4 linked regions of the Homo sapiens genome follow. The protein of the gene in region 2 purifies or fractionates together with the protein of the main gene of each other region. This does not show direct contact. Each region holds a gene or a part of one and is shown on either strand. Other genes may lie near its edges. The genes, in order: NUDCD1, COPG2, COPZ1 and ARCN1.

The links.
Region 1: the proteins of COPG2 (region 2) and NUDCD1 purify together in Homo sapiens (co-immunoprecipitation; 3 studies listed by BioGRID and IntAct, with this or other methods). This does not show direct contact.
Region 3: the proteins of COPG2 (region 2) and COPZ1 fractionate together in Homo sapiens (co-fractionation; 5 studies listed by BioGRID and IntAct, with this or other methods). This does not show direct contact.
Region 4: the proteins of COPG2 (region 2) and ARCN1 purify together in Homo sapiens (affinity purification with western blotting; 2 studies listed by BioGRID and IntAct, with this or other methods). This does not show direct contact.

Annotation. Positions count from the first base shown.
Region 1 is NC_000008.11:109,289,081-109,296,107, forward strand, and holds part of NUDCD1 (nudC domain-containing protein 1), read right to left. Parts: intron 4,445-7,027; coding exon 4,264-4,444; intron 854-4,263; coding exon 671-853; intron 1-670.
Region 2 is NC_000007.14:130,665,736-130,672,660, forward strand, and holds the start of COPG2 (coatomer subunit gamma-2), read right to left. Parts: upstream 3,014-6,925; 5' UTR 2,934-3,013; coding exon 2,897-2,933; intron 1,800-2,896; coding exon 1,747-1,799; intron 1,195-1,746; coding exon 1,114-1,194; intron 1-1,113. Other genes in the region: TSGA13 (testis-specific gene 13 protein), read right to left, coding at 3,279-3,448, 5,926-6,053. UniProt on the Homo sapiens protein: The coatomer is a cytosolic protein complex that binds to dilysine motifs and reversibly associates with Golgi non-clathrin-coated vesicles, which further mediate biosynthetic protein transport from the ER, via the Golgi up to the trans Golgi network.
Region 3 is NC_000012.12:54,328,129-54,335,155, reverse strand, and holds part of COPZ1 (coatomer subunit zeta-1), read right to left. Parts: intron 1-7,027. UniProt on the Homo sapiens protein: The coatomer is a cytosolic protein complex that binds to dilysine motifs and reversibly associates with Golgi non-clathrin-coated vesicles, which further mediate biosynthetic protein transport from the ER, via the Golgi up to the trans Golgi network.
Region 4 is NC_000011.10:118,596,390-118,603,416, reverse strand, and holds the end of ARCN1 (coatomer subunit delta), read right to left. Parts: intron 5,711-7,027; coding exon 5,506-5,710; intron 2,793-5,505; coding exon 2,703-2,792; 3' UTR 384-2,702; downstream 1-383. UniProt on the Homo sapiens protein: Component of the coatomer, a cytosolic protein complex that binds to dilysine motifs and reversibly associates with Golgi non-clathrin-coated vesicles, which further mediate biosynthetic protein transport from the ER, via the Golgi up to the trans Golgi network.

The sequences.
Region 1 (7,027 bases), on a different chromosome or scaffold from region 2:
TTCTCCTGCCTCAGCCTCCCAAGTAGCTGGCACTACAGGCACCCACCACCACATCCGGATTTTTTTTTGTATTTTTAGTAGAGACGGGGTTTCATCGTGTCAGCCAGGATGGTCTCGATCTCCTGACCTTTTGATCCGCCCACCTAGGCCTCCCAAAGTGCTGGGATTACAGGCGTGAGCTGCCGTGCCTGGCCAGTCTTTTCATGCTAAAACATAACCTTCATTCATTCATTCAACATTAATAAAATTATGTGATTCTGCCCTCAAGGAACTTACTTTCAGTTTAGTATAAAAGGTAAGAACAGGTACATTAGCTTAACTTATTTTTAAAAATTAGTATCTTCAATATTACACTATTAATACCATCAATACTAATAGCAAATAGACATTTATTTGATAACTATTTATTAAGCACCTAATCAAGGAAGCTAATAAACGATTTTTTAAAAAAACATTTTTGGTAATAACAAAATGATCAAATTAAACCAGTTCATTCACACTATTAAGGTGGTATACCTTATAAAAGACTTCTGGAAAATACATGAGAAAATAAAGAAAAAATTATGCATCTATCTTGCCCTTGTAGAACTATTAACCTAACTGGGAAAATAAAAGACATAAATATATGTTTATGAAAATACCAATAAGCTCTATTAAGAATAAAAATTACCTTTGATTTTCTCTGATATGTCTTCATCCATATTTTCTTCAAGATCTTGACCAGCCTGAACAAATGTTAAAGACTTGTAGGATACAATCATTAGACCATTTCCATCAGGCTCAATAGCAGCATAATGTGGCACTGACTTTCCACGGAGAATATCACGCTTAATAATTTCATATTTTTTATTATCTGTAAGAAAAGTATTTCAGAACAAAACATTACAAATAAAAACTATTATCAAAATATTCTGATATTTAAAAATTGATTTTAATTATAATTAAATAATTTGAATGTATTATTAAAAGGTACACTATTAAGAGTCTTTTCATAAGGATAAACAATTTACAATCTAATTTTCCGTAAATAAGTCCCTATTTTAAAATATTGGGTCTGGTGAAATTTGTTCCCGATTGTCCTGTCCAATGTGGTAGTCACTGGCCAGAAGTATCTACTTAAAATTAAGTAAAATTTAAATTCCTCAGTCATACTAGCCACATTTTAATTGCTCAATAGCCACACATGGCTAGTAGCTACTGCAGTGAATGGTACACATATAAAACATGTCCATCTTGGAGAAATCTCTTATTAGACAGCAGTACCCCAGAACTCCAACATGACCGGCTTACTTGGAATAACAGCTTCTGTATGACCTACCTCTCCTTGACTAAAGCCTGTCTGCCTTCTCAGCAGGTATGTGATAAGTTTCTTCTGAAAAGTGACAAATTGAGGACAAGGGGAAACATGCAGTGTGGTCTATTTTTCTGCCTGCTCTAACTCCCGATAAGGGGCATTTTAACAATGAAATAAATTTATAGCAGAAATGATTTTTTTTACACAAGACATTTATCTATATGCTTATAATTAAACATAAATTAGTGCTACTTTTAAGATATAAACAATTAACTGTATTCCAAAAGTTTCTGACAAATTAAACTTATTTTCCTATAAAGACAGTAATTTTTTGCTTTAAAAAGTACTCAAACATTTTAGCTGACTCCATACTTTTACCTATACTGTTACTCTTTAAGTGGGTTATACTTGTAGGCTTCATACTGAGTAGTCGAAAATCACAACTTAATGTCATATTATTATGAGTTTTTACATAATAATACCATCTGTTCTAAAATATCTCATTGTTTTTACTCAAAATCCTCACCTACATTCACACATTCAGTTCACACATATTTAAGAACAGGCTTGTAATTTAATGAATGAACAAAACTCCTACACTTCCCCTATAGATACATGCAGGGCCAAAAGTCCTACTTGACTTTAAAGATCCAAACACCGACATCACATATTTATAGCGTGGCCTTTCCCAGCATGCATGGGACAGAAAAGAATAGGAAGCCTCAAAAACCGGATTCCGTGGTTAAATATGTGGAGAAATGCTAGGTTAAAATTAAATGTAAATTGTTTTTTGTTTGTTTGAGACAGGGTCTTACCCTGTTGCCCAAGCTAAATGCAGTGGCACGATCACTGCTCACTGTAGCCTCAAACTCCCAGGCTCAAGCAATCCTCCTGAATAGCTGGAACTATAGGTGCACAACACCATGCCGAGCTAATGTTTCTGTAATTTTTGTAGAGACGGTGGCTCACTATGTTGCCCAGACTGGTCTCAAACTCCTGGGCTCAAGTGATCCTCCTGCTTTGACCTCCCAAAGTGCTGAGATTACAGGCATGAGCCTTTGCATCTAACCTAAACTTTTTTTACTCACAATTTTTAGAAACTTTAATATGCTTAATGTGTAATGGAGCTATTTTATGTCCACATTTTCAAACTTATCTGACCATAAATATACTTTATGAAATGTTTCATTCAAAATAGTTTACGAAAATACTGTTCTGTTAACTAAAAAGAAAAAGAAGAAAAAAACCAATCATATTAGTAGTAGTCTGGGAGAGAAGGAACAAGATATAAAAGAAAGATAAAGGGAACAATAAAGAGAATTAATGATTCTATAACTACAATCTTGGGAGAAAAAAGGTTAGTCTCAATGTATTTGTCCAGCTGAGGCAAAGAAACGAAGACAAACGGGATGGAGAAGTAGAGCTGGAGCAGAGTACTGCTATGTTCTGAGGCAATTTGATGAGTTACCACAGATTGAGAAAAAGATGTTACAGAACCAAGTGTCTTGGAGAAAGGAGGAGGAATATGCATGACAATGTCTCCTGTAAGATTTTGAATTACGTACCTTAAAAAAATTAAGGCTTCCATTATCTAAAGCAGGGGTTCTGCAAACTAGGACCCTTGAGCCAAAGCTGAATCTAGGCCTATTTTTGTATGGCCTGTGAGCTAAGCATGAATTTTATATTTTTAAATTGTTAAAATAGTAATATTTAAAGAATAATATTTAAATATATGTCAAAAAAACATAAAATTCAAATTCCTATGTCCATAAAGTATGATTGGAACACAACTATACTCATTCATTTATATATTGTCTATGGATGCTTTTGTACTGTGTTGGCATACTCGGATAGCTGTGACATAGATCTTATGGTTACCAACTGGGATTTCAAAAAAGTTTTCTAATATCTAATTAAAGTTTAAAGTTACTGTGTTCCTCCAGAGATAAAACTACAACACCAAAAAGAACTAATAAATTATATTGAATACTTCAAAGAACAAATCTAGGAGACTTATTCAGTTTATTTATAAACAATTTTGAGATATCTATTAGATAGACAGATAGCTGTTTTAGAATAAAAGGCAAAACCCTCTTAGGAAACAAATACTAACAGTCTTTACTGAATTGCAAACTAGCAGCTATGGTAAAGAAATATTTTTCTACAGAGATGAATGATAATTTAATTTATATTAACTTACTCATAAATGAGTCAGCTAATAAAAACTACTGAGAAAAAGAGCATAGAGTCATTATGGAAACAAGCACTCTCAGTACTCAACTACAGTTAAAAAGAAAACACTCAATGAGTCAGCAGGAACTAAGCAAAGGCAAAGAGATTTCTTAATACCTTAAAGAAATCCTAATTAATTCATGAGATTGTAATTTTTAATGTCAAGTTAGAAGCTTGACAGACAGCTTCAAACAGACCAAAGTTCAGGACTATTCTAAACATGGGAGCACATCAGGTAAGAAAAAGTAACAGTTTTCCTAAATGTAGAAACAAATAATGAAGTTCAATTAGATTTAAAAGAAATCATACCTGTACTTTAATGAAATAAAGACATTCATTTCCAAGTAAGTATTTATATTTATTTACATTTAAATTATACTATAATGTATTAATTTACATTTAGTTTTAGGTATATGTTTCTGTGTATCACACATATATATGCATATATTTTTGTATATATTAAAAATATACCCGTTAAATTATTCAAAACTTATATAACAATGTCTTCTTTTATATAAAAGGCATAATTGGCTGTGGATGCACACTGCAATTTTTTTCTATAAAATATACCTGAGGAAAAACTATCTATACATATTCATTCCACCAGTGGTGGCAGGTGCCAGAATTGTAACACAATGCCCAAGAAAGAGCAAACAGTATTTACAGGGACAGCTTTGTGTTTCAAAATCTACTAAATAATGCCAACCAGTAGAGACAGATTCAGACTTTTGTTTTACCTTGATTTTTCTTACTGATAGTGACCCACTCCAGAGAAACATAGAAACCACTTCCTTTCATATCCAATTCCTCTTTCTCTATTCGAAGAAGTAGGGTAGCTATAGAATGTTCTTCAGCATTTAGCAGTGAGATACTGTGAATTATAATAAAAGGATCCCCAAGTTCTTCATTAAACATAATCTACAAAACAAAATTACACACACAAAAAAGTGTACATAATTACATGAACACAGATAGCATAGAGGGAATATATAGGATTCTGGTGATTCAACAGTTATTTTGGATACTATTTATTACAAGAAATTTGAAAATAAAAAGGCCTTTACATAAAGACTGCAAGTTTAGATAATGTTCCCTGAGGACAGAACTTTTAAGAAAATATTTATTTGTATAAGAAAAAAACTGATCATTAGTCTTGGCTACCTTGCTTCCTCTCAGTTTCTAGATATTGTATATGAGTGTGCATGTGTGTATGCCTTTTTCCTGTTTTTTGTTTGTTATTTATTCTCTGGAAGTTTACAAAGGCAAGAGTCAAAAACATTGAAGAATAAATCACCAAAACATGTTTTTTCTCAAAAACAAAAGAGCCTATTAGCATTTAAGAATAAGTTAACAAACTCTATTTAAAATAATCCTAAAGTGTTTTTTGAAAAGCAAAAAAGCATCATATAAAAACACACAAAATCTTGTCTAAGCATCATACAGAAACACACAAAATCTTATCAAATTCTTTCTTATACCACAAACACAAGATCTCAACAACTATTACATTTTTAAGACTAAATACAAAATAGAGAAGGTTTTAAGGCTGCTTCCTAAACAAGATTTCCAAATAAGATATGGACAGTTGAGAAAAAGCCTAACTGAAAAAAAGGTAGCTTTAAAAAACAAAAACAAAAAACAAAAAACAAAACCTGTACCTGGTATCCCCACATATCTACTTCTACTTGAAAACCTTACAAAGAAAAATGTGCTTTAATGTCATCAAGTTCCCTATGTATTTGAACATCTGCCAAAATCATTCAAGTAATGGGCCTTCAGAATCCATTCTTAAGATTTCCATAAACAGAAAAAACAAAAGCTTAAAAAAAATCCTTAAATATTCAAAACAGAGATGACAGATGAAGGCAGGTTTTTATTGGTTGATTGGGTTTTGCTTTTGTTTGAGGAATAGGGGAAACAAAACGGAAGAACAGAAAATGACAAGTTTTGGCAGGAACAAGTAGCTAGTTTATTGTTTCTTTTTTTCTTTCTAGTATGAGTGAAAGGAACTGTAATGAAACCAGAAGAGTAGATGGCGTACTTTTAAAAATTGTTAGGCTGAAGTTTCTAGTTTTCTGAACAAGCCCAGCATCTAAACTGTGATACCGTTGATACATGGCACTTCCATGGTATTAGAGGCAACACATTTGGAAAGCAAGCTGTCTCCTTTAATTTCTCTTTTTAAACTTCAGTAATCACCACCACCACCCTTGGCCCCCTTACCCCCCACCATGCTCCGTAATCACTTCTACTTTTAGCTTCTCTGTTATATTAATTACCCTAAAGTCCTAAAACCCTCCTGAATTGTTTCTTAAAGTGACCAATATTCCACAGTATCCCTCCCACCTCAATTAATCCCCAAGTCTCCTCCCTCTCCCACCAGTATCTAGTCAAAACTATTATTAGCTGAAAACATCTCTGAAGGGAGCTTATTTCATTAGGGCAGTATATGCTAAAGAAGGCACAAGGTAGAATTAAGTTTTTAAATTTATTTAAAAGATACTATTGAAGTCTTAATACACGCCAAGGGGATACACAAAACAAAACCAAAAGAAGTATAAGCCCATATGAAATAATGTGTGGTATTATTTTTAAGATGAAAGTGAGCCAAGTAGGTTTGTCCTGTTCAAAATCTACAGAATCCATACAGCTCAATACCAGATAAATTCCCACTCATATCTCTCCTGCGCATTATTCTCAAAATACCTTCCAACTGTTTCAGGTAGCTGTGCTACATACCACATTACTTCTGTTTTTCAGAAAAATGAAAGTTGTTACTAAAGGCCAAAACAGAAATTGCCACAGTATCCAATGAATATCTGAAACTGTGAATGCAACAGGCTCTTGTAAATAGGCTACTGCTGTTCTGGTTATTTACTGTGTATTTTGAACATACTATAATTTGGTAGTATAACATTTAGTATAACTTAGTAAGGTAGGTAAACCATTTGGTTCTAAGACCTAACTGGTTTTTCTCAAGTAATTAAAGCCTGGTCTCTGTAGGCATCTGTTGGTCAGATGAAATTATTTTATAAGACATAAATATATTAAGCTCGCATCTCTTTATTTACCCAGAACTAAAGGCTACCTACAGAGATTCAGACAGTAGCAATATTACAATACACTTATTAGCATAACTCAAAGGAGCTGAAGCAGTAAACTAAATCTTTTGATTATCTACTTGGCATCATTTTCTTCTGTTTTCAAAAACTGTAGTTCTAGAGAAATTAATTCCTTATTTATTACTATTAAAACCCTAAACTACCCTTTAGATTTATATCTAATTTTTAAAATTAAAGTAAAAATGTTGTCTTGGAAATTGGCATATAACTATATATTTATATCATGTATTTTTCTAAGTAGAGAATATTCTGGTAATCTGACTACTATTTGACCAATGTAAACATCCCAGCAAATCTAACATAATGGCAGAGGAGAAAATCATCCTAACATAAGCTTTTGGTCAACTCTTCTTCAAGAAGGAGGAGGCAACGCCAATGC
Region 2 (6,925 bases):
AACCAATTCCCCACTGATACTGAGGGAATATGAATCCATGAAACAAAATCATATTTTCTAAGGCCCTAGACATTTCATGAGTTTTTTTTAAGTCTGGGGCAAAAAAAAAAAAAAGAAAAAGAAAAGAAAAATTAATAACAACAGCAGCAAGCAGAATCTACATTTCATGAGCGCAAATATTTTTGCTGGTTTGTCTGCTATATCCCCAACACCTAAAACAGTGCACAGCACACAGCAGCTACGCAATAAATATTTGCTGAATGACGGAAGGAAAACTATTCCTGAATGCTTACTGTATGTTCAGGACTATTCTCAGTGCTTTACACTAATTATCTCATTTAGTCATTACAACTCTGTAACAGGTATTATCATAATCCCCATGTAGAGAAAAGGACATCAAGGCACATAAAATGGTTAAGCTACTGCCCAGAATTATTCTGCTAGTAATGGTAGCATAGGGATAATAAATATAAAATCTGAATATTAACAATCAAAGCTTTAAAACATCATTACACACATAAAAAAGAAAATATCTGGAATTTGCCTGATCTTGCACTGTATTTTCAGAAAAACATGAAGATCTCCAAATACATGTAAACAACATGCTCTAACTAGTACTCATTAAATTGAAACCAAAGGATTTATTGAGAATCTACTATGCGCATCACTGGTTTAGGATCTCATGAATAAAAAGGAAGTATAGGTTAAACATCTCTAATCTCAAAATCCAAAATCTGAAATGCTCCAAAATCAGAAATTTTTTGAGTGCCAATATAACACTCAGTGGAGACACTCATCAGAGCATTCTGGATTTCAGATACTCAGATTAGCAATAGTCAGTGAGTATGTATTCTGCAAATATTCCAAAATCCAAAAAAATCTGAAATCCAAAACACTTCTGGTTCCGAGCATTGCAAAGAAGGTATACTCAACCTGTATATGTCATAGTCCTCGTACTCAAGTTTTACATATTATTTTGTTAACCAAACGTTGTATATGTTAAAATTAAGTGAATTTAAAATAAATAAATATACTTTCCAGAAAGTATTTCACTGAATCTTCAGTATTTCTATTCCAGGACACACTTATCTGAGGAAAATAAAAATAATATACCTGGTTCAGTAAGTAAAGAATCTTTGTAAGAATATGCAAACATCTTCTTGGATTGATTGGAGTTTCATTGAATATACGAGCCTATGAAAAAACATAAAAAACATTGCTACTTTTCTACCTTTTCTATCACAGATTATAGCAAATCAACTTTAATACAGACTATTTTTAATCACGGTATCCAAAGAACATTGTCTATAGTTCTCAATTTACTAAGGTATCTGATAAATTATTACACGTGGCCTTGATTTTCCATCCTATACTTTCTCATTCCCTTAGGTTGACTACTTCAACTTTATGGGCTATACCAGTTAAATAAGGATCACAATACTTATCTATATCATACTAATACAATGAGATTAATACAGATAACTGATTTCAATAACCTTGCACTAAACACCTGTTCTTACATTTAAAATTCCCAACCTGTGACAGTCTTCATGTCTTTGCATTTCTATAAGCTCCAAATTCTCCTGTGACAAGTAACCCCTCTTTCTTTTCCCTCAAATCTATATTCCCTAAACTCTGTTACGTTTCTTGTTTTGCATGTCGTGATCACAGCAGCCCAGGGATTCTCTGCCCACCACTCTAAAACAGAATAGAAAAGAAAGGGCACAAGATACTTCCCAGTCATACCTCCTGTAAAACAGCACTCTTCTCCAGATGCTGGAAAGGATTGGAGCCACTACCTATTTATAAAACAAAACAAAAAAATGTCCTGAACAGCTGTTCTACACAAACTTATATACTTTCCAGAGAAGGGTACTGAATGCTTGGGAAGTGAACACTTGGATGGCACAGTGATAATCATGGCTAATACGCATACGAACTGAATGAAATCATTTTGATCCCGGCTCTGTCACTGCCATACTCGAAGAGCTGAGACTTCTCTTTCGCAGCAACCCTCTCCAAAATGAGTGTCTTCTTTCCCTGCCCTCTTTTTCCATGAATGTTAAAAATGTGTCATTTCCACAACAACGAAGATTAATGAGATTGTAGTAGGGTGCTTTTGATTTCCTTAGGTAAGCAGTATTTTATGTGTTTCTAACACTTAAGGAGAGGCAGAAACGAAGTTTCCCAGAGAATCATGCAGGCGTAAAGGTGCAAGAGGCCATGGAGGTTGACTAACCCAACCCCCTCTCACACTGTGGGAGATGCTACCAAACACTGAGAATTTTTTTCTTTTTGAGGATGCTTGGCATCTTCCCCATTTGCTCTGGACCAAAGACGGGCATCAAGACGCAGGTCACTTCTGGACACCTGAGCATTCAACGAGCTGTGTCCCACGGGACAGTCTTGCCCCCGGGGACCTGGACAGAGCCGGTGACCCCAGGAAAACGATAAGGTACCAGGCACCTGAACGTTCCTCCACACACACCCTGTGCCGTCGACCCCAGCCCCGGGAACAGGGTGCTCCCACTAGGGGTCCGACCCTACCAGCACCCCTGGACGCGGAGACGCGCGCACGCCCTCGGCCCCCGCCGGAGGCCCGCGCGCAGGGGAGGAGGCGGCTCGGAGGGGCTGCGCCGCAAGAGGGGCGGGAACGGGGCGCGCGCGGGCGCCGGGGCGGGAGCGCGCGGCCCGAAGGGAGGCTCCGGCGCCCGGGGGAGGGGCTACGGGCAGGCCCCGGGCAGCCGCGAGGGGAGGGGAGGGGCCGGCTCCAGCTCCGGCCCCCTGGCACGGCGGCGCCCACGCCCCCAGCCCCGCCGGCCTGAAAGCAGGTGGCGGCGGGCGGGGGAAGGGGCGTCCCGCGGCTGAGGGTGGGCCTCGGAAGCCCCGCGCGTACCAGACTCCTCGTCCTTCTTGTCGAATTTTTTAATCATCTTGGACGACTTCCCAGCGCCCAGACCCACCGCAACCGTCCCAGGCGCCGCAGCCGGCGAGCGGAAGAGGCTGCAGGAAGGCCGGCCCCGCGCTCTCACGCCGGTTGGGCCGCCGCGCCTTCACTCGGGGCCAAGGCCCGCCCTCCCCGGCCGCCCTCGGCCCCCGGGACGCAGCCACGCCCCCTTCTCCTCTTGCGGCCCGCCGGAGACTTCGGCTCGACCCTCCCGGCTTGCGACCCGGGAGCCCACGCCCGCAGCAGCAGGAATGTGGTTTTATTTGGGTGGCGACTTCTGCGGACCCCTCAGTCTCAAGAGAGCGAGGCGGGAGGACTGAGGGGTCTGTGTTCACCCGATGACCGTGGCCTTTTTGATAATCCACTGCGGGGCCCTCCCGTTGCGGAAGGCGCTCTCCCCGGGCGCGGTTCTGGTGGGCATGTCTTCCAAGAGCGATGCGAGTGTCAGTGGTTCCCGAATCACTTTGGAAATTGGCCTTTCACTCGCTGACTTCTTGGAAGCTACGACAAAGCACAGGCACCCTGGTGAATGTGGCTTTTCAGAAGTACTCGAAGGATACTTAATGTGAGATGTAAAGGAGACGCACTTGGAGGGACCAGAGGCTGGTCTTTAGAGGGTAGATTTTGGACCGTGTAATACCATTCCCAACCTATTTTATAATTTTTGGATTCCTTCATTTCATCAAAACCCAGTGGAAAATTCATTGCCAGTTTAGAGTCTTCCTTGTTCAAGCCTATTTCTTTCAATGATTCCATCTGAAACCATATTGACACTTAAGAAACTCACTAAATTAACGTGCATTCATTCCTAACTCATGTTCCTCTTTTTCTCAGAGTGTATGCTGGCTTTCTGTTCTCTTGTCTAAGAGTGTAGCTAAGAAACTTTGTCTGCCTTTGGCTTCACTGGCATAACTTGTTTAGAAATGTAAATTGGGTCTATACTCAACAGGATCGTGCCCCTGCAAAATTAGAGAAATTCTAACCTAGATTACATTCTACATCCTAGAGAAATTCTTTCCCTGAAATACAGATTTAAGATGAACTGTTGATATCCTACATATGGTATCATTTAAGATTTAACTCCGACTTGACTAAATGTACTATTAACTACTATGTTTGCTTTATATGGCTTGTAAAGGTCAAGTCATACTTTGTAGGTGGAGTTTTCTTTGAAGGAAATAGAAGTCTGCACTCATTTATTCTGGGGGTGAAAATAAACAGGCTTTGGGGAAGGAAACATCCTCTTCCTCTTCCTTGGCCCAAGGGTATTGGGAACCTAGGCAGAGACAGTGTAGATAATAGGCCCAGAGGTTCTCAAGGTGGGTAATGCCCCGGAGACCTGCTGAGAAGTAGAAGGACCTGAGTTCAGATTTGGGGCTGACCCTAAGACTAGCCCCTTGTAAAGCAAGATCAATCATTCTCTGCTGTTCTTCAGCTTTTCTGTATATCTATGAAGTTTTGTTTAATACCACAGGTTGTTTTTAGCTGTGCAGTATTTACGGAGTTAAGAGCATCAGTAGGTGGAAATGGGATGGGATGTGGTGGCAGATAGGTATAGCAGGAGCAGAGAAGCCTGAAGAAGCCAGTTAAGGGATGGTATAATATGACCCCAGGCCTTCGGTATCAGGACTATTTGGACTGAGGATGGCTGGCAGACGGGTTGAGCAATCACTGCAATGGCTTTGTGGGACAGGCAAGGATACCTTAGGGAGTCTCAGGAATTGTTTGAGGAGAGAAACCCAGTAGGAGAAATGGACCTTATCTTAAAACCATGAGCTGGTGAAGTCTGAGGACCCACCAATTATATATATCTAATACACAAATGTGTACTCAGTGCCCTGAAATTCTTCATTGGGTCCAAACTGCCTACTGGATAAAACCCAAACCTTTATTTAAATAATATTTAAGGCATTGTGGTATTTTCGATTTCTTGTTATTGTTGTTTGTTTGTTTTTCAGACAGGGTCTCACTCTGTTACCCAGGCTGGAGTGCAATGGCATAATCACAGCTAACTGCAACCTTGAACTCCTAGGTTCAAGCAATCCTCCTTCCTCAAGCCCCCCAAGTAGCTCAGACTACAGGTGCATGCCGCCACACCCTGTTAAATTTTTTTAAATTATTTTTTGTAGAGACAGGATCTCACTATGTTGCCCAGGCTAGTGTCAAGCCCCTGGCCTCCAGCAATCCTCCTGCCCCAGCCTCCCAAACTGCTAGGATTACGGACACGCCCAGCCTGTCAAGGCCTTTTATGATCTGTTTCATCTCTTTCACATATTGAAAGTGATATTGTTGGTGCTTGGTAAGTGTCAGACACTTAGTAGGAACCCTTGAAATACTGTTAAATAAATGATAATATGTGAGGAGGATTCTCATTGTACCCTCTGCCATACAACCTTATTCCAAGCCCCTTCTACCCCATTCCCTACCCCAATCCCAGAGACTTTTGTACCTCTAAGACACACAGACTTATCCTTTGGCCCTTTTAGAGCAGTTTTTTCTTCAAAGTATAATATGCATACCACTGGGTGGTTCTAGGTGGTACATAGATAAACATTTTAAAATTTCATTATTATAAATTTGATATAAGTGTTTCAGAAAAGCATATAATTTGTACATCAAAACCATGATATCAATGATATAGTATTAATTAGGACAAGATTTTTTAAAAATCCTTTTAAAAAATGCTAAGTAAATTAACAGCAAATAATACATCAATATGGCAAAAACTATTAAAGTGCTGGGTGATATAGCTTAGTAAACACTGCTAGAGCTTTCTTGAAATTTGAGGATTTAAACAGGGTCCAGAGCTTTGCACCTTTTGAGCCTCTATTTGTTGTTAACTTCCATGCTATAGGGAAAAATAGTCTCCAGGACTACCACGAGAGAAGCCAGTTTGCCACATCTATAATCCTCATGGATTGTATCTCCAGCCCAAATCTCAGTCCAGTAAGCCTTTGCTTTGAAAGAGAGGAGCTTACCATCTTTCCTCATATCTCTCTCATGGACTGGAGCAAAGGTGAGCTGAGGGTACATTTTCTTCTGTGTCCTCAAAGCGTAGACTTTTGAATACTTCCCTTCGCTCTTGAAATCATTGTCAGTGGAAAACCTTAACAAAGAAAGTTCTTTGTTTAGTAGATCCTAGGGCAGGGGGATTCATGGAACTATTCACTTTATTTTATTTTATTTTATTTTATTTTATTTTATTTTATTTTATGTATTTATTTTGAGACACAAGTCTTGTTCTGTCACCCAAGCTGGAGTGCAGTGGCATGATCTTGGTTCACTGCAACCTCTGCCTCCCAGGTTCAAGCGATTCTCCTGCCTCAGCCTCCCAAGTAGCTGGGATTACAGGCACTTGCCACCACGCCTGGCTAATTTTTGTATTTTTAGTAGAGACGGTTTTCACCATGTTGGCCAGGCTGGTCTCGAACTCCTGAGCTCAAGTGATCTGCCCACCTTGGCCTCCTGAAGTGCTGGGATTACAGGCATGAGACACCGCGCCCAGCCCCACCATTCACTTTAAAGTTGGCTACATTCTCAGAGAAGACAAGACAATGATAGGAGCCTGTTGATTGGTGCCAAGTAGGAATATTGTTCCGTGACAAGGGATGCTTCTGAACTTAACACTGTAAACCTTTGGAGGAACTCCAGAATCTCTTCTGTCCTCTCTAAACTACACATAGGCTGCTCTTGTAAGTAGTTTCACATAAAACCTCTTTTGTCTAATGTGTTCTCATAGCACATGGTTCCTGTGATATAGCGCCTAACTTGTATTGAGGGTACTTTTTTTTTTTTCCTGTTTCTTCAAAGCACAGACCTTGGAATATTTCCCCTCAATCTTGAAACCATTGCCAGTGCAAAACCTTAGTTTTGCATGACTGTTTCTCTTTGATTCATGTGTCAATGAGGTTAGGGTCATGTAGGGAAAGTCGTGTCTTACTATCTTTGTACGACCAAAGAATATGTCATTAAATTGTA
Region 3 (7,027 bases), on a different chromosome or scaffold from region 2:
GTTGTCCAGGCTGGGGTGCAGTGGCACAATCTTGGCTCACTGCAACCTCCGCCTCCTGGGTTCCAGCAATTCTCGTGTCTCAGCCTCCTCAGTAGCTGGGATTACAGGTGACTGCCACCATGCCCAGCTGATTTTTTTTATTTTAGTAGAGATGGAGTTTCACCATCTTGCCCAGGCTGGTCCTGAACTCCTGAACTCAGGCAATCTGCCTGTCTCGGCCTCCCAACATGCTAATATTACAGGTGTGAGCCACTGCACCTGGCCTCTGTGCCAACTTTTATTTATTTTTTTATTTTTTTGAGACGGAGTCTCACCCTGTCGCCCAGGCTGAAGTGCAGTGGTCTGATCTCGGCTCGCTGCAAGCTCTGCCTCCCGGGTTCACGCCATTCTCCTGCCTCAGCCTCCCGAGTGGCTGGGACTACAGGCACCCACCACTACGACCAGCTAATTCTTTTGTATTTTTTTTAGTAGAGACGGGGTTTCACCGTGTTAGCCAGGATGGTCTAGATATCCTGACCTCATGATCCACCCGCCTCATCCTCCCAAAGTGCTGGGATTACAGGCATGAGCCACCGTGCCCAGCCTGTGCCAACTTTTTTAAAATTAAAAGCTCCTCTGGGGTTAAGGGCTCCAATTTGCCAGCCACAATCCGATAGACTTCAGATGAAAAGAAAAGAAGAATTAGCTAAAGTCTTTGACAGGGAAGAGCAGTTTTTACATATCAGATTTTTTTTTTTGAGACAGTGTTGCTCTGTTGCCCAGGCTGAAGTGCAGTGGCGTGATCTTGGCTCACTGCAGCCTCTGCCTCTCGGGTTCCAGCAATTCTCCTGCCTCAGCCTCTCAGGCAGCTGGGATTACAGGCGCTTCCCACCACGCCCGGCTTATTTTTGTGTTTTTTGTAGCCTGGCTTATTTTTGTGTTTTTTGTAGAGACGGGGTTTCGCCATGTTGGCCAAGCTGGTCTCGAACTCCTGACCTCAGGTGATCTGCCCACCTTGACCTCCCAAAGTGCTAGGATTACAGGCATGAGCCACCACGCCCAGCCTATATCAGATTTATTAATATTATTATTATTTCTTGTCACCCAGGCTGGAGTGCAGTGGTGCCATCACAGCTCACTGCAGCCTCAACCTCCCAGGCTCAAGCGATCCTCCCCGTTCAGCCTCCCAAGTAGCTGACTACAGGTACATGCCACCACACCCTGCTAATTATTTCTGTATACACACAAGATTAGATTCAAAAAGCACAGCTCAGGAAAGAGTGGGAGCCACTGGTACCACAGAACACTACCCAGCTGACATGAGACCAAATATTGGTTATAAAGAAAAAACTCAACACATGACTCGGGAAGAACTGACGGCAGGAAGAGACACCTACAATCTTCCTATCTGACACAGACCCAAAACATGTAAAGCACAGTCAACAAGAGTTTTGATATTACAGGAGAAAATGTCTCTAAACTCCTACAATCCATCTCTTAAATAGAGACAGGGTCTTGCTATGTTGCCCAGGCTGGACCTGAACTCCTGGGCTCAAGGAGTCCTGCCTCAGCCTTCCAAATAGCTAGGACTACAGGCATGCACCACCATGCCTGGCTACAATACTTGTACTATAATGGGGATCAGCCATTAACTCAAATTTTCCCTTTCTCTGAGATTCAGCTTCTTCATCAGAGAAATGAGAGGCTTGACCTAGATCAGTTAAGGTTAATGCCTTTTTTGAGTTACAGCAGACCCCTTTGATAAACCAATTACATCTATGGACCTTATTCCCAGCAAAATACATTCACAAATTTTTTTATGATTTCATGGCTAGGCATGCTGGTTCCTACCTGTAATACCAGCACTTTGGGAGGCCAATGTGGGGACAAATAGCTTGAGCTCAGGAGTTTGAGGCCAGCCTGGGCAACATGGCGAAACCCTGTCTCTACTAAAAATACAAAAAAATTAGCTGGGCATGGTGGTGCATGCCTGTAATCCCAGCTATTCAGGAGGCTGAGGCATGAGAATTGCTTAAACCCCGGAGATGGAGATTGCAGTGAGCCAAGATCATCGCACCACTGCACTCCAGCCTGGATGACAGAGCAAGACTCTGTCTCAAAAAATATATATATAAATAAAAATAATTTTTTTATGATTTCAAAGAGTTCACAGAGCCGAGTTTAGAATTAAATGAGATTCTCTCTGGAGATAATAAGATGGTGTGGAGGGGGCAGGAAAAAGAGGGGAAATGAGTGATACTTTTGTAAACCACCCCCTCTACTCTACCTGGCATCCAGTAATGCTGGATAAATTCAATAAATGTGTGTGTGGCCTTCATAAATTAATAAATATGATTGAGAAAACTAACAGCCAGCAGGGGGAATAAAGGTCAGCAACCACGCTCCCTCCAGCTTTCTTTTTTTTTTTCCCTTTTTTTTTTTAAGACTGAGTTTCATTCTTGTTGCCCAGGCTGGAGTGCAATGGTGCAATCTCAGCTCACTGCAACCTCCACCTCCCAGGTTCAAGCGATTCTCCTGCCTCAGCCTCTCAAATAGCTGGCATTACAGGCACCCACCACCACACCTGGCTAATTTTGTGTTTTTAGTAGACAGGGCTTTGCCATGTTGGTAAGGCTGGTCTCGAACTCCTGACCTCAGGTGATCCGCCTGCCTCAGCCTCCCAAAGTGCTGGGATTACACGCGTGAGCTACCATGCCCAGCCACCTCCAGCTTTCAATGGCTGAATTTGATGACTGTGAAATGGGCAGGACAAAGACAACCAAACCCTAAGCTTTTTAGGAATGCAAAGTCTCAGGACCTTTCTCAAAACTCAGAAAGCCTGTCTGTTGGAAAATTTTTTTTTTTTGAGACGGAGTCTCACTCTGTCGCCCAAGCTGGAGTGCAGTGGCTCACTGCAACCTCCGCCTCCCGGGTTCACGCCATTCTCCTGCCTCAGCCTCCTGAGTAGCTGGGATTACAGGCGCGTGACACCATGACCGGCTAATTTTTGTATTTTTGGTAGAGACGGGTTTCACCATGTTGGTCAGGCTGGTCTCAAACTCCTGACCTCGTGATCCGCCCGCCTCGGCCTCCCAAAGTGCTGGATTACAGGCGTGAGCCACCGCGCCCGGCCTTGCTGGAGGATTTTTTACCCAGGGGTCACATAGTCCCTAATTCTTCAACTATCATGGAAGTGAAAGAATCACAGAAATGAGGGACAAAGCAGTACTGCTGGGAAGAGAGATGAACTGAATAAGGAGAAATCAGACTATACTCCAGACCTGAGGCCTGAGAGCACCATTAGAACATTCTGCCTTCTCAGTTTGGTAATCCAGGAGCCCTCACTTAAATAACACTCAGCAAAGGAAAAAAATCAAAAGGGGCTAGATCCATTCCTGATGAGTCCTGGGTCACGATTTGTATCATGATTTATCCCTTTACTCCCCCCCACATCTCCCTGCTTTTGCTCCTGAAAACAAAAAGCTAGTCTCTGAGAGACTGAATTGACAGACTCTGTGTTATCTTTCAGTCTATTTATGCCCCCAAATCAACCCCGAGGCAGAATTGCTCTATTCTCCTCTGGTTTTAGTCTCCCTCTAAAACCACACAACAGAAAAGGAGTTGCAGAAAATTAGTTGACCGAGCTATCCAGGGCAATTGGCTATGGATGGGATATCTGCATTGAGAGTGAGAAAATAGGCCGGGCGCAGTGGCTCACACCTGTAATCCCAGCACTTTGGGAGGCCAAGGCATGTGGATCACAAGGTCAGGAGTTCGAGGCCAGCTTGGCCAACATGGCGAAACCCCGTCTCTACTAAAAATACAAAAATTAGCCAGGCATGGTGGTGGGGGCCTGTAATCCCAACTACTCGGGAGGCGGAGGAAGGAGAATCGCTTGAACCTGGAAGGCAAAGGTTGCGGTGAGCCAAGATCATGCCATTGCACTCTAGCCTGGGCAACAAGAGCAAGACTCTGTCTCAAAAAAAAAAAAAAAAAAAAAAAAGAGTGTGAAAATAAAAAGCCAAATAAAAAAGCAGGCTTCATCTGCAGCATATATAACTTAGATTACACAACAGGAAGGACTTCCTGAAGAGATGGGTGTGGTCAAACACCAGAAGAGGTGACACAGGCTAGGGAATGTAAGGCCAGGAGAGATCCCCCTAATAATCTGATGTAAGGAAACCTATTCTGCCCAAAAACAGGAGGGACAGAATGTGAGAGGGCCCTTGCCAGCACAAGCATCTTACAAGTGCATGGACTCATTCTCTGAATCCATCTTCATCAGCTGTCCCCTGGGCACTCTGCCTTTCCTCTTCCTAATTACTCCAGCACAAGTGGGTACATAGGTACTGATTCTTTATCCCTGCTCCATCTGATTTGCTCCTCTAGTTTCCCTTTCCACAACCTGTTTTCTTGTCAACATCCAGACTCTAATCAAGCCATGTCAATGGAGTAAAGTAAGAAACAGCAGCAAGTATCTAGATAAAAAAGACCCTAAACCTGCCACTAGGCTCCGTCAAATACCTGGATAATTGCACTCATCCTCTGCCTCCCAAGGCAGACCTGGCTTCTCAAGGGTCTGGTTTTCCTCACATGGAGGCCCCCTCCTCCTCTTCTGACCATGTGACAGCTCCCCTAGATCTTTGATATAATTTATACCTTGCCAGGGACCAACTCTTTCCCACCACTGTGAAGAAGAGGGAAAAAATATATATAAATACGTCGGAAATCTATAACAAGGTCTTCTTGGAGGGCAAGACATGGGGAGAGTTAGAAGCAGCGTCAATTGCTCTTTGGGGGTTTTAGTTCAAGCCGAGGTCTGCTTCCAGCAATCAACCATTAAAACAAGCTGGCCAGAGTAACAGCACAGTTTATTCTGATCATTTAATTTGAAGTGTCAATAAATTAAACTTCAATCAATTAAACTAGGTGTGCAATAACCCAGATGGACACCCCGACACCAACATAATCACAATAAAAATTTTTATTGCTGCCAGGGACCTCACCGGGGGCAGTGCTGGCACTGCTCGCGCCCTAGCTGAGAAATATATCTCCACAGCGCAGGAATGAGGAGATTGCTTCTCCTAACAAAATGGAGGGGGCCAGGCACCAGCAAGGACGCAGCTGGGAGAGGGGCACAGGGGACTGCCAGGAACGAGATGGGAGTGCTTTAGGGGCTTAATGTAATTGATACCTTTGCCCAGAGCAGGGGGAGGGGGGCATTTAGGCCAAGTACCTCTACTGTTAGGGCCAAAGGAATTTAACAAAAGCCCCATTAAGATGATTCAGGAAGCAAAGGCCAAGGAGCAACATCAACCTTTAAAGTCATTGACATATTCTGCATAGTTTCCTCCTCCATACATACTCATATCCTTGTGCACTTTGGATGGCCTGATTTTTTAATGAGGCTTAGAATTTAGGATTTGGTTATGGTTTTAAAATATTAAGGTAAGACAAAGTACAGAATTAGAAGTCTAGTCTGTAAAGCACTGGAGAAGCACTCTGAAAGTGAATCCAGAGAGGATTAGGAAAAATAAAACCTATGAACAAAGATTTAAAGATCTAAACCGATACAGAATTCAGTTTTGTTTGTTTTTTAAGACAGAGTTTCACTTTTTGCCCAGGCTGGAGTGCAATGGCCCTCGGCTCACTGCAACCTCCGCCTCCCAGGTTCAAGCGATTCTCCTGCCTCAGTCTCCCGTGTAGCTGGGGATTACAAGCGCATGCCACCACGCCCAGCTAATTTTTGTATTTTTAGCAGAGACGGGTTTCACCATGTTGGTCAGGCTGGTCTTGAACTCCTGACCTCAGGTGATCCACTCACCTCAGGATTACAGGTGTGAGCCACCGAGCCCGGCCCGAGTAATTCAGCTTTAAAGAAAAAAAGTAAAGCAGGAAGGAGGAAGGGGAAATCCTTATCTTTAAGATTCCACAGGTTATTAATGGAGAATGGTGATCTGCAGAGATCCTCTTCATTCACAACTCAAAAAGCGAGAACCAGCAGATACAGCAAGAGAGAAGAAGCCAAGTCCAAAGATGCAGGCTGAGATCACTATTATTAAGCATTGGGAACTAAAAGAGATGAAAGGGTCTCTTTCCTTAGAGCCTAAGGAGACCTGAGAGAGATTAGACAAATCTGCTTGAAAGCTAGAGCTGGATTACTTAATTCAAGAAAGAAATGTGACCATGTGACCCACTGTAAAGTACCTAAAAGAAGGGAACTTACTGTTATTTAGAAATTCCACAATCAATGCAAACTTTGATCAACAGTTCTTCTTGACCCCCTGTAGCTTACCTGTCCCTTTTTCTCGACATCCTGCAGCTATGTATGTACCTTGTAGAGTTAAGGACAGAAGAATATGCTTTGATCAGATTGTCCCTAACCGCATTACATAGGTTTCCCATAACAAAGAACCAGTGTGGTTTTAAAAGCAAAGTCCAGGGTTACCTGATCAAGTTAGCAGGGATCTGTGAATGCAGCCTATTAGGCATAGATTAAAGCAAAAGAATAAGGAAGAAGCAGGCTGAAACAGACTTCACTGAAGAAGCAGAGACAGAGAACTAAGGGAAGAGAAATGTGACAGAGAGACTTTCTTTTTCTTTAACTTTTCTGAGACAGAGCCTTGCTCTGTCACCCAGGCTGGAGTGCAGTGGCGCATCTCGGCTCACCGCGACCTCTGCCTCCCAGGTTCAAGTGATTCTCTTGCCTCAGCTTCCTGAGTAGCTGGGATTACAGGCGTGGCCACGCCCAGCTAAGTTTTGTATTTTTAGCAGAGACCGGGTTTCACCATGTTGGTCAGGCTGGTCTCCAACTCCTGACCTCGTGATCCGCCCACCTCGGCCTCCCAAAGTGCTGGATTTACAGGCGTGAGCCACCGTGCCCGGCCTTTTTTTTTTTTTTGAGATGGAGTCTAACACTGTCGCCTGGGCTGGAGTGCAGTGGCGCGATCTCGGCTCACTGCAACCTCTGCCTCCCTGGCTCAAGTGATTCTCCTGCCTCAGCCTCCTGAGTAGTTGGGACTATAGGCTCGTGCCACCACGCCCAGCT
Region 4 (7,027 bases), on a different chromosome or scaffold from region 2:
CTGAGATCGCACCACCACACTCCAACCTGGGCAGCTAAGCGAGACTCCATCTCAAAAAAAAAAAGTAAGCAGGTTTATCTGAGGGAATTATCAACAGTTCCCAAAAATTGTTCCCATTATCCCTCATCCCTGGATCACTTCTCATCACGGTCTAATGGGGAAGAGAAGACTCCAAGACTCCAAGATTAAAGATGAAGCCTGACTTTTTTGACTCTCCAACTGCCGTCTGACAAAATTAAGACTCCAATCCCCAAAAAGGCCAGAAGTAGCATCAAATTCAAAAGCTACACTGTCAGGAGTGCATGTATCAAATGTAGAAAAATACGCAAGGAAGCACAATACATATAAGATGGAAAAAGGCAATGAATACTCTCACAGATTACTTTCTCTTAAAAAAAACATGTCATTAATTTTTAATGTTAGGTCCCATTACAGCATCCTGAATCAACAAGCAGACACCAAAGTGAGTCAATAATCCAATAAACATCTCATTTTATAATGCGCTTTATTTGATTAAAGAATTTGCCTTCTTTGTATACACTGGAATGTTATATTCCCTATGTATTTTACAGGGTTACAAAATGTCTCTCATTTTAAATATTACCCCAAAAGTAATCTCAGAAAAAAAAGGTTTTTTGAAATTAAACTTGACTTTTAAAAAATCATACGGACAAACAACTTTCAAACAAAACTGGATTAGTAGGATTTCTTGCCTGCTTAACTAACATGACAGACTTCTTGTCCCAAGCCCTTCTCAGAAAAACCTCATGTGGAAACCAAGCTAGAGATAAGAATTCTTCCCTGATGCAGTTAGGGGAAAGGGAAAGGCTAGAAACTTCTTTGGCAAGCAATTCCACACACAGCCATTTATGTGTGAGTGCTCTGCTTCAAGCACAGTACACTCTTTGCAGGGACGGCCAGATGTTCAGAGTGGGAGTGGTACTTTTCAACCAGCTAAAAGTGCAGAAGTCATCTAGTCGTCTGCCTCTTCCCACTGCCAGTGCCTGCAGCCTTGCAGCAACTTTTAACCACCCCTATGGACTGGAATATTGAGTTAAAAGCCAAGGCTGAGCTGGCTGACGCTGTAGTCTCCATTGAAAAGGAAATGGATGAGATGGAACCGAGAAACCACCAGTACATGATGACACTCAAAAGACTTAGGGGGAAAGAGAAGGAAGGATTTCAGAGATGGGGACAGACTGGTGGAAAATGTTGGGCTGACTGGAAGGAAATGGGGTATACGTGAGTAATATGTACATATCGAAACAATCAGTTGCCTCCTGAAATGCAAAAAATCAAATGGTGAAATGGAGCCTCCTTGATAGTTTAGGGCCAACAGGATTGGCAAAGACTCCCTGAACCCACAGCCTTCAAAATCATAACCCCATTTCTGTTAGAAAGGAGGGGACTGATGACAGAGAGTGCAGTCTGGAAGAGGGAGGTGGTGAAACTGAGGAATGTGAATGGATTACAGACTGTGGCCATTACGTTTTAGCTTAAGTACCCAAAATGTGGAGAAATGAAAATTTGGGTAGCAACAGCAGCAGACATGATTACATGTGGATGTGAAATCCCTAACTGGACAGACATAACCATTCTTTTAGACATCTTGAAGAGGGACTGTGCCATTTGAAAGGTGCTTCTCAGCTATCTTTAATATTGACACAAGTGGGATTCATGGTACTGTTCTAAACTGGAAGGACAGGCCCTGAAAGGAAAACAACTTGGCAAAGAGATGAAGGAATGAATTGATACGGGAAAAGAACAGAAGACATGCGTATCTTTTAACTTCTAGACCCCATACCCCTCAAATAGTTCACCTGAATAGTCCAAAAATCAAGAATGGGTTAGATATACTTGTTCCAGGAGTGCCAAATAAATATAATGCCTGTAAACAGATGATCCCAGTGCCTGACTGAATGTATAGAAAGAAAAACCTAAAGGTAAAGGGTATGAATGATTAAAATTTTCTACAGAGAAAACTTTTTAAAAACAAACTAAGTATGAAATATAACTATATTTAGGGATTATATTTAGGGATTAAAATAAAGGAGCAGCTGGGCATGGTGGCTCATGCCTGTAATCCCAACACTTTGGGAGGCTGAGGTGGGCGGATTGCCTGAGCTCAGGAGTTCGCGACCAGCCTGGGCAACACGGTGAAACCCCGTCTCTACTAAAATACAAAAAATTAGCCAGGCGTGGTGGCGTGCACCTGTAGTCCCAGCTACTCGGAGGCTGAGGCAGGAGACTTGCTTGAACCCAGGAGGCGGAGGTTGCAGTGAGCTGAGATCATGCCATTGCATTCCAGCCTGGGTTACAAAGTGAGACTCCATCTCAAAAAATAATAATAATAATAATAATAATAATAAAATAAAAATAAAGGAGCAACTTAGGTAAAGGTAGAGGAGGTATTTAACTGGGGGCATTCTCTGGAGAGCTTGCTTTCCTGCTGGCCAATACAATCTGCCAAAGAAAATTAGCAGCCTTTCCCTTTATGTTTGTGCCATTTCCTTATCAAAGAATGTCTCTGTGACACTGAAACATGGGGGTGAGTCGAGGGTCCTTGCGCGCAGAGAATCGTGCATTGTATCAGAAAAAAGGGGTCTCCAGTGGCTTGTAAATCTGGGAAAAACTCTTCAGCCATCATTGGCGTCTTCTTTATTAATCTGAAAATTTTCCTTTTCAGCTCCCTCTTCTTGGTATTACAGAATTTCATACTTATCCACTAGGAAAGTGGTCTCTGTGGAAAACCTGACGGGGCTGTTTCCATCTACCTGGGTCACTTTGGTAACCTAGGAAAATAAACAAAGAGTAAGGTAAAGCAGGAGGTTTGAGTCTCCATCATGTTGACTACATTCTCATTACAGAACATATCAATTTCCCTAAAAGCGGTATTAAAAGTAACTGTAAAATACTAGAAAAATGTTCAATTCACAACTGAAAGTCACAGCATCACTCTTCCCCACCAAAATGATTAAGCTGCTTTTCTTCTAGATGGAGAAAAGACAACTGTTGGGACGAGATGTTCCGTAGTATTAAGTAAAAGCTCCAAAATGAGTGGCCACAGCCCAGCCCTGCCCTGTATAACCTATGAAATTCATAGACATTCTATCAGGATGATATATTAACATTCTGACCCAAAAGGCAACGTTCTAGCTCTTCACATTATTCATTTGCTCTGCTCTCAAAGTCTCGTGTTAAAAGTCCCAGTAAGCTGCTCTATCATACTTATTTTTTAGGCATGGCTGGTCCAATGAGGTTTTTCCTTTTTAAATAAATAAATGTCCAGCTTAATTAATTACATGTAACAATGGTACCTATAACGGCACCAATACAACACTTGAACCACTGATTCGTATTTTCTAATGAAGTTTTGGGAGAGCAATTATAATGTCCTAATCTTTGAATAGCCCCAATAGGAAAATTTACCCATTTCTATCTAATGTCTTGAGTTCAATACAGTTGCTTCCAACACTGATGGGGTTATGTCACTAACAGGATAGGGAGAGAGAACTGCTCTTTGGAATCATTCAAGGGAGGAAGCTGCAATTTTCTAAGCATTTACAGGGGAGACGGAGACCATATGGGAAGCTAAGGTAGGGCCAGAACAACAAGCAAGTCAAAAAGAGGGGAATATTAATAATATAAACTGGGTCCTAGTAATGCAAATTAAAAAACTGGAAGAACAGCCAGACGTGGAAGCTCACTCCTGTAATCCCAGCACTTTGGGAAGCCGAGGTGGGCGGATCATCTGAGGTCAGGAGTTAGAGACCAGCCTGGCCAACATGGTGAAACCCCATCTCTACTAAAAATACAAAAAAAAATTAGCTGGGTGTGGCAGTACACGCCTGTAGTCCCAGCTACTTGGGAGGCTGAGGCAGGAGAATCACTTGAACCTGGGAGGCAGAGGCTGCAGTGAGCTGAGATCGCACTGCACTCCAGCCTTGGTGACAGAGCAAGACTCCGTCTCAAAACAACAACAACAATAAAAACTGGAAGAATGATGAGTTAAAAAATAATGATCCGGGCCGAGCGCGGTGACTCGCGCCTGTAATCCTAGCACTTTGGGAGGCCGAGGTGGCTGGATCACGAGGTCAAGAGTTTGAGACCAGCCTGGCCAACATGGTGAAATACCGTCTTTACTAAAAATACAAAAATCAGACAGGCGTGGTGGCGCATGCCGGTAGTCCCAGCTACTCAGGAGGATGAGGCAGGAGAATCGCTTGAACCTGGGAGGCAGAGGTTGCAGTGAACCAACATCACGCCATTGCACTCCAGCCTGGGCAACAAGAGTGAAACTCCGTCTTAAAAAAAAAAAAAATCCGCCAGGCGTGGTAGTTCACGCCTGTAATCTCAGCACTTTGGGAGGCTGAGGTGGGCGGATCACCTCAGGTCAGGATTTCGAGACCAGCCTGACCGATATGGTGAAACCCTGTCTCTACTAAAAATACAAAAATTAGCCAGGCATGGTGGCAGGCGCATGTAATCTCAGCTACTGGGGAGGCTGAGACAGAATTGCTTGAACCCGGGAGGCAGAGGTTGCAGTGGGCCGAGATCATGTCACTGCACTCCAGCCTGGGCAACAGAGCAAGACTCCGTCTCAGAAAAAAAGGAAAAAAATCCATTGGGCACTGTGGCTCACACTTGTAATCCCATCACTTTGGGAGGCTGAGGCGGGTAGATCACCTGAGGTCGGGAGTTCAAGACCAGCCTGACCAACATGGAGAAACCCCGTCTCTACCAAATATACAAAAATTAGCAGGGCATGGTGGCGCATTCCTGTATTTCCAGCTACTTGGGAGGCTGAGGCAAGAGAATTGTTTGAACCTGGGAGGCGGAGGTTGCGGTGAGCTGACAGCGCGCCATTGCACTCCAGCCTGGGTGAAAAGAGCAAAACTCCATCTCAAAAAAAAAAAAAAAAAAAAAAATCCGAAGGAACAGCTCACACATCTCCATTGCTTTGCCTACCTAAAGGACAGAGTTTGCAACAGAATTGGCTCATGATTATTTGTACTAATAAAGGGAGCTGTGACATAAATAACCCTCAAATAATTTCCATTTGTAATAGAATGGATTTTTTTTTTGTAGTAATTTTGTCTTCTAAATAAAACAATTTCATTCTTTGGGTATAAATCAAGTGACAGCAAGGCCTTAAAAAAACCATGTGTTGGGGTGTTTTGGCAAATCGACTTTAAAATATATAAGGTTAAAAAAAAACAGGCAACTAAGTGTTTATGAATCTTGCATAATCCACAAGTACTTTTATCTGTATTAACATTCCATTTCTTTACTTTGTCTGATCTAGAGAGGAAAACTGAGGTAAAGCAATAAAAGAATTTGACCACGATCATACAATGAATTAGAAAGGGAATTCCTGTAGGAGACATCAGTTTTTTTCTGAGCTTTATCTGACCACAAAAAGCCATGCTACCTGTCTGGCATCCTATACGTGTTCCTACTGTCCTACCACTTTCCCTATATATGTTCTCAACTAAAATGGAGTACCTGTATGTTACAGTAATTTTTCTTGGAGACAAAGGAAACTTGAACAGGGAAGAAGTCATTGGGCTGCCCAGCAATGCTAAACTCCAGGCTGCCACTCTTATTTTTGGCATCAATCACAGGCAGGCACCACTCCAGGGTATTTCGTCGACTGTCATGTCGATACTCCCCATCGATCTCACCGATAACAGGCGCGCCGACACCAGACCTGTTGTGAGAAACATTCTGGTCAAGGTAGCTGTTCAGAGCTAGAACTCCACCACGGAAAACCAACCCCAAATTTGATATATGATCCCCAAATTTTGCCTTCTAGGACTACAATTTCAGGGGAAAAAAAGGCTAATAACTTCAAGGATCAAACGATGAAGTCCTAGCACCTTGGGCTAAGAGTTTCACTCAATTCCCTCTGTAGATATAGTTAATATGCAAAAATAGGTATTTGGCAGATATGCCTATGGGCTGCTCCAACTTAAGGACTAGATCTGGGGACTGCGACCAACAGATGTGTTAAGATGGCTATGTTTCCAAAAACCCTGCACCAATAGGTTGCTGCCCTATAAATAAGGAATTTTAACATAATGTAGCACTCTTTATAGGAGACAATGGGGAAACAAGCAGATTGATAATAGTGGGGGAAAACTCTAAACATCAATAGTGGAGATGAATGGAGGCCTTTGAGAGAATTTGTTTTCTTGTTCATTTGTTTTTTGAGACAGAGTCTTGCTCTGTCGCCAGGCTGGAGTACAGTGGCGTGATCTCAGCTCACTGCAACCTCCGCCTCCCCAGTTCAAGCGATTCTCCTGCCTCAGCCTCCCAAGTTGCTGGGACTACAGGCGTGTGCCGCCACGCCCAGCTAATTTTTGTATTTTTAGTAGAGGCGGGGTTTCACCATGCGGGCCAGGATGGTCTCATCTCCTGACCCCGTGATCCACTTGCCTCGGCCTCCCAAAGTGCTGAGATTACAGGCATGAGCCACCGCACCCGGCCGAGAATTTGTTTTTAAAGATTTCAGAATGTTTCAAACTTATTGAAGTTGACACCAATGGGTTTATTTGATTTACAATCCAGTAAATGGACTTTTATTTGATAAGTGAAAGCACAATTACCCCTGGGGCAAAATGGAAACATGATGGGAGAAACAGATCCGTAGTTGTCCTTAATCTGCGAGAGAAGCAGGGCTAGTTAAGATTTACTCTGCACCCCTACACACGGCTGACAGGCAGTGTCACCTACTCCTACACATTCTAAATTTACCAGCTTTTAATTCACCAGTGACACTCAATGTTTATATTAGGGATAGGGTAAATAAGGGAGACAAAGTAAACTTTAAGGGTGGCATAAGACTATTAACTCTTCCCTATCAATTTCAGGGTCCTGGTTCTTTTATGTTCCTTCTCTGTGCCCTTGCTCTAATTCTGATTCTGATCTCTTCTAATTTGATCAGTTCTAGACAACGGGAGTAAAATGTTGTGTAAGGGTCTCTTCTGGAGACCATTGCAAAACTGAACTAGAATACAGGAAACCA